Linked DNA regions of Homo sapiens. The protein of the gene in region 1 purifies or fractionates together with the protein of each later gene. This does not show direct contact. Each region holds a gene or a part of one and is shown on either strand. Other genes may lie near its edges.

The links. The genes of interacting proteins can lie anywhere in the genome.
Region 2: the proteins of OTOA (region 1) and HTATIP2 purify together in Homo sapiens (affinity purification with mass spectrometry; one large-scale study listed by BioGRID and IntAct). This does not show direct contact.

What each region holds. Positions count from the first base shown.
Region 1 is NC_000016.10:21,670,468-21,673,967, reverse strand, and holds part of OTOA (otoancorin isoform 1 precursor), read right to left. Parts: intron 1-3,500. UniProt on the Homo sapiens protein: May act as an adhesion molecule.
Region 2 is NC_000011.10:20,377,214-20,380,713, forward strand, and holds part of HTATIP2 (protein HTATIP2), read left to right. Parts: intron 1-3,500. UniProt on the Homo sapiens protein: Represses translation by preventing reactivation of elongation factor eEF1A. May also inhibit nuclear import by competing with nuclear import substrates for binding to a subset of nuclear transport receptors.

The DNA.
Region 1 (3,500 bases):
AAATTAGCTAGGCGTGGTGGTGGGCGCCTGTAGTCCCAGCTACTTGGGAGGCTGAGGCAGGAGAATGGCATGAACCCAGGAGACAGAGCTTGCAGTGATGCAGTGAGCCAAGATCACGCCACTGCATTCCAGCCTGGGTGACAGTGTGAGACTCCAACTCAAAAAACAAACAAACAAACAAACAAAACCTGTACACAAATGTTCATAGCATCTTTATTCATAGTAGCTGAAAAATTGAACCAATCTAAATGTCATTCCGTAGGTGAATGGTTAAACTCACTGTGTGTGGTATGTCCACGCCATTGAATACTACTCAGCAATGAAAAGGAATGAACTATTGATACAGGCAACAACTTTGATGCACCTAAAGGGAATTATGCAGAGGGAAGAAAGCCAATCACTGAAAGTTATATACTAATGATTCCAATTATAAAGCATTCTTGAAATAAAATTATAGAAATGCAGACTAGATTGGTATTTGCCATGGGGAGAGGGAGATAAGGCTGTCAAGGGATGCATGAAAGAGGCTTGTGATCACCAGGAGAGTTCTGGGTCCTGATTAGGGTAGCTGATACATTAGTCTACACATGTCACAAAATTGAAGAAAACGATATAAAATATACACACAAAGGAGTGCATGTAAAACTAGTGAAATCTGAATAAGCCCTGAATTTGTACCATGATTTCCTGAATTTTATATGGTACTATTGTTACATAACATGTAACCAATGGGGGAAACTGGGTGAAGAGTACACAGGATATTTCTTTTGCAACTTCCTATGAATCTGTAGTTATTTCAAATTCTTTTTTATTTTCTTGAGAGACAGAGTCTTTCTCTGTCACCCAGCCTGCAGTGCAGTGGCATGATCATGGCTCACTGCAGCCTTGAACTCCTGTGTTCAAGTGATCCTCTGGTCTCAGCCTCCTGAGAAGCTGAGACTACAGGCATGCACTACCATGCCCAGCTAATTCTTTTAGTTCTTGTAGAAATGGGTTCTTGCTATGTTTCCCAGGCTGATCTCAAACTCCTGGCCTCAAGCAATCCTCCCATCTCGGCCTCCCAAAGTGCTAGGAATACAGGCATGGGCCACCATCCCTGGCCACACAATTGTTTTTTAATTTAGTTATAGTAGTCTGTACCACTGTAGGATGACAATAGTTAACAATAATATATAGTTTCAAATAGCTAGAAGGAAGATACTGAACAGAAAGAAATGAGAAATGTTTGAGATGGTAGACATGCTAATTACCCTGACTGATCACCATACATTATACACATCAAAACATCTTTATGTACCCCATAAATATGTACAATTATTATATGTCAATTTTTTTTTTTTTTTTTGAGATGGAGTCTCACTCTGTCACCCAGGCTGGAGTGTAGTGGCGCAATCTCGGCTCACTGCAACCTCCGCCTCCCAGGTGCAAGCGATTCTCCTGCCTCAGCCTCCTGAGTAGCTGGGATAACAGGCATGCGCCACCACACCCAGCTAATTTTTGTATTTTTAGTAGAGATGGGGTTTCGCCATGTTGGTCAGGCTGGTCTGGAACTCCTGACCTCTGGTGATCAGCCCACTTCAGCCTCCCAAAGTGCTGGGATTGCTGGCGTGAGCCACCGTGCCCGGCGTATATGTCAATTTTTTAAATAAATAAAATAATAAATTTTTAAGCACCCAAAGGGAAAAAACCCATATTATATGCATAGGAAAAGGAATACACTACTGATATAGGCAACAACACAGATGAACCTCAGAAACATTATGCTTATGCTGAGCAAAAGAAGCCAGTCAAAAAAGACCACATAACATATGATTCCATTTCTGTGAAACTCTAAGTTATCTAGAATATCTAGATTCTAGGTTATCTAGGTTACCTAGAATAATCTTCAGTGACAGGAAACAAATTAGGATTGGTCTGGGGCATTATTAGGGTACAATGGGAAAAGTTTATTGCAACAGGGCACAAGGGAACTTCTTGGAGTGATGGAAAAATTTTTTTTGTAGATATAGGGTCTCACTATAGTGCCCAAGCTGGTCTCAAACTCCTGGTTTCAAGCAATCCTCCCTTCGAGCTTCCCAAAGTACTGGGATTACAGGTGGATGCCATTGCACCCAGCCCCCATTTTTTGTATCTTGATTGTGGTGGTTGTCACACAGATACATACATTTATCAGATCTCACTGAACTGTACACTTAGTGTGCATTGTATTGCCTGTAAATTTATACCTCACAAAAGTCAGTATCAAACAGAAATGGAAAAGCATGGACTGTGGAGCCAGTCACCTGTTCTGAATCACGTCTCCGCCACTTACTAGCTGTGCAATGTTGGACATATTTCTTTCTTTTTTTTTTTCTTTTTTCTTTTTTCTTTTTTTTTTTTTTGATATGGAGTCTTACTCTCTTGCCCAGGCTGGAGTGCAGTGGTGCAATGTAGGCTCACTGCAACCTCTGCTTCCCAGGTTCAAGCGATTCTTCTGCCTCAGCCTCCTGAGTAGCTAGGATTACAGGTACCCACCACCACACCAGGCTAAGTTTTGTATTTTTAGTAGAGACAGGCTCCCACCATGTTGGCCAGGCTGATCTCGAACTCCTGACCTCAAGTGATCCACCCACTTTGGCCTCCCAAAGTGCTGAGATTACAGGTGTGAGCCACTGAGCCCGGCCTTGGACGAGTTTCTTAATCTCTCTGCACTCCAATTTTCTCGTCTGTAAAATGAGATTAATGATGGTACCAGCATCACTGTGTCGTATGAGGGTAAAATGAGTTGTTAATAGTGAATCACTTCAAACAGGGCTTGACACAAAGTCAGCTCTGTATACAAGTTTATTAAATAAGCAAAGAAACCAGATTGCTGTTTTCAAACAGATGCTGTTTTGAAAAACACCATCTCAATAAACTCATGTCACCCTCCGCCTCTCCCCATTACCCTCAAGATAAAGCCCAAAGCTTTTCCAGTGGCTGTATCACCCTCCTCTTTGCCCCTCATTCCCCAAGGTTCCTGCCCGGGCCATCTGTCTGTCCCTCCAAGGTGCTATCCTCCCCAGATTAAGACCCTCTCACAGGCTGTTCCTCGGCCCAGAGGATTCTTCCCCTTCCTCTTTGCCCGGCTAAGATCAATTCATTGTAAATTTCAAGTCTTCAATGAAGCCTTCCCTGAATTCTCTGACCAGGCCAAAGCAATTAGCCAGAAGAAAAGGCCAATACTTCTCTTTTATAGCACCAAGCACAGCTATAATACATATTTATGTTTGTGTAATTATTTCATGCTTTCATTCTTCAAATATTTGTTGAGTAGTGCTGTGAGCCAGGCATTATTCTATGCTCTGAGAATACAGCAGTTTACAAAACTAACTCCCTGCTGGTGTGTTGGAATGAACCAGGCAGAAAATAGATAATCAAATAACTATATTATGTCAGGGAGTGATGAGTGCCATGGAGAAAAATACAACAGGGTAGGAAAAAGGAGCCAAAGAAGGAGCAGGTACTATTATAGACAGTTT
Region 2 (3,500 bases), on another chromosome or scaffold:
CTGGGACTAGAGGCATGAGCCACCATGCCTGGCTAATTTTTGTATTTTTGGTAGAGATGGGGTTTTGCCATGTTGCCCAGGCTGGTCTCAAACTCCTGAGTTCAAATGATCAGCCCATCTCAGCCTCCCAAAGTGCTGGGATTACAGGTGTGAGCCACTGCGTCTGGCCTCAACTTTCTTAAAAGTCTTAACGTTTTATCTTTTAAAAATTTATGCACATTTTGCTATTCTTAGTACTATACATATCCCTGTTTATTTTAATTTAAAAGGTTTCTATTAACTTACCTTTCAGTTAAATTGATGCTGTTGGAAGATAGGCATGGCTTTGTCTTTGTGTGCCTCCCTTTGCACCCCAGGTGCCCACAGTTTAAGCAGCAGAGCCACAGAGGTCATTCAGCCATAGACTTTTCCTATGTGAAGTCCTTTTACAGAAGTTCATCTCCTTTCTGCTTAAATATCTCCAGCACTACAGAGATTACTATCTCGTTAGCCAACTTTTTCTATTTTGGGTCAGATCTACTTGTCCAAAAGTCTTTACCTTGAAGTGAAATTTATTGTTATGTAAATACAAATTGTTATCAGTTCTGCCTTTTAAAATAACAAAAATACGTCCAGTCTTTCTTTTGCATTGTAGTTTTTAAGACATTTGGAGATTATGACCCCCTTAATTGTATGTTTCCCAGGCATAACACCTTTAAATCCTTGCACCATTCTTTATGGGTTCCTGTGTCTAGCTCCTTCATGACTGCATCACTTTGCTAAGGGTGAACTTTGCAGTGATATTATACTGGAACTGCACTGGGAGTACTATTCATGCTCCGAACACTATGTTTTTTTAAAAAAATAGGATATAAGATTGTTACTATTTTACCAAACATCCTTATTATGTTGTTGGCTCATGATCAGCCTGTAATATTAAAAATTTCCAGATTTTTTTCACATGGCTTATAGCTGAGCCATATCTCACCTATCCTAAAATAGTATTTTGAACCAGATGAAGATCAGTGAGCCACCAATGAAATTACATGAAGAATGGAAAAGTTTCCACTTAATTGTCAGAGTTTAGAACAATTCTTAAAAGGAAAAAATCTGTTTTCCTTTTTTTTTAGAGTCAAAGTCTTGCTCTGTCACCCAGGTTGAAGTGCAGTGGTGCGGTCACAGCTCACTACAACCTCAGATTCCTGGGCTCAAACAATCTCCAGCCTCAACCTCCTGAGCAGCTGGGACTACAGGCATGAGGGATCAGGCCCAACTTGTTTTTTAAAACACTGACACATGTGGGTTCTGAGAAAGGTTATCAAATAGGATTTTTGCTCTCATTAGCAAGATCAACATTTATACCTTTTAGGAAAGAAAATATACATAAGATATTTCCTCATTGTTAAAGATAAAGGCGTTACTACTGACTCACTGGGTTATAATAATGATTTAACCAGATTTTTAAAAAAATAGCTAACACTAAATGAGCCAGGCAGTATTCTGAGGGCTTTTATGTGCATTTGCGTGGAAACAGGTACTGTGATATTAAGACCACCAGCTGTTGGCTGGGCACGGTGGCTCACGCCTGTAATTCTAGCACTTTGGGAGGCCGAGGTGGGAAGATCACTTGAGGCTGGGAGTTTGAAACCAGCCTGGGAAACGTGGCAAAACCCTGTCTGTACTAAAAATACAAAAATTAACTGGCACAGTGGTGTATGCCTGTAATCCCAGCTACTCGGGAGGCTGAGGCAGGAGAATTGCATGAACCCGGGAAGCAGAGGCTGCAGTGAGCCAAGATCACATCACTGCACTCCAGCTTGGGGACAGAGTGAGACTCTGTCTCAAAAACAAAACAAAACAAAACAAACAACAACAACAACAACAACAACAAAAACACCAGCTGTTAAGCGGCAAAGCTAGAGCTTGAACCCAGGCTGATTCCAAGGCCTATGCCACTAGCTATTAAGTAATGAATAGCCTTTGTCACTAATACATGCAAAAGGGACCCAGCAGAGATTGGACCGTGACAGAGCCTCAGCAAATATTAAGGCCAATACAACGGAAAGACACTTCTGATTTCACTGCAATTGGCCTGCATTACCTGCAGCCTGGGATTATGAATTAGATTAATAAAGGACAGAAATGACAACCAAATGATCCAACCCAGAATGACGCTGAACAATATATAATTGCTTTTACAATTTGGAAAGATTATCTTTCCAAAATAATCCTTCAACTACTGTGTGTAACATTCCTAGTATTTATTGCCTATTTTCTCAGCCTCCATGTGTGTATGAACTCCCCCGCCCCACCCAATTTTAGAAACTCCTTTATTGTTTAGGAACATTTATTCTACTCAATGAAGTTTCAATTGCATTCATTCATGGTGGGCCAGCTCTGGGGGCTTGGATCAATCATGTGCTTTATGGGCATTCTGCTGGTGCCGTGGGGAGACGTGTCAGGATGTGGAGCCCAGAGTACTGGATGGGCCTCATGTCCTCTGTTCTCAGGGTTTATAAGCTTTGGTTTCCTCATCTATTCAGGGTGAAGGTATACTTTCCAGACATGTGACATTTTATTATTGGGTATCATCCTTGACCTCAAGGAGTTTATAATCTGCTTGTATTGAGGGATCCTCAAAGACACCCCCAAGTTTGGTAATTCACTAGAAGGTTTCATAGGACTCAGCATATAGTCATACTCACAGCTACAACTTATCGCATTGAAAGGATATAGAGCAAAATCAGCAAAGGGAAAAGGTGTGTCGGGTGAAGTCTGGAGGAAAGTAGGTACAAGCTTCCAAGAGGCCTCTCCCCATAGAGCTTGCACAGGATGTGCTTAATGTCTCCAGCGATGAACGTTTTCTGCCAGAGAAACTCATCTGAGCCTAGGAATGCAGGGTTTTTATGGGAGCCAGTTACATAGGCACATTGGCCTAGCCAAATTGCAGCCCTCCAGAAGAAAGGCAAGTTTTCAGCATAAACCACATTGTTTGTACAGACAGTTTAGGCATAGTACATGACCCTTATCAGATAGGGAATGGTGGGAACACACCGAAAATCCAAGGTTGCAAGCACAAGCCAGGGGCCAAACTTGTAACAGGCCTTTCTAAGGATAGCAGTCTCAGCCTGCTATGGTATCTCTTTTATGCACACTGCTAATAGAGACAAAACAAATCTTTTAAAAAGCTAAGAAATGGGCTGGGCGCGGTGGCTCACGCCTGTAATCCCAGCGCTTTGGGAGGCCGAGGCGGGCGGATCACGAGGTCAGGAGATTGAGACCATCCTGGCTAACACGGTGAAACCCCGTCTCTACTAAAAATACAAAAAATTAGCCGGGCGTGATGGCAGGTGCCTGTAGTCCCAGCTGCTCGGGAGGCTGAGGCAGGAGAACGGCATGAACCCGGGAGGCGGAGCTTGCAGTGAGCTGAGATTGCGCCACTGCACTCCAGCCTGGGCGACAGAGTGAGACTCCATCTCAAAAAAAAAAAAAAAAAAAAGCTAAGAAATGTGTGTACACAT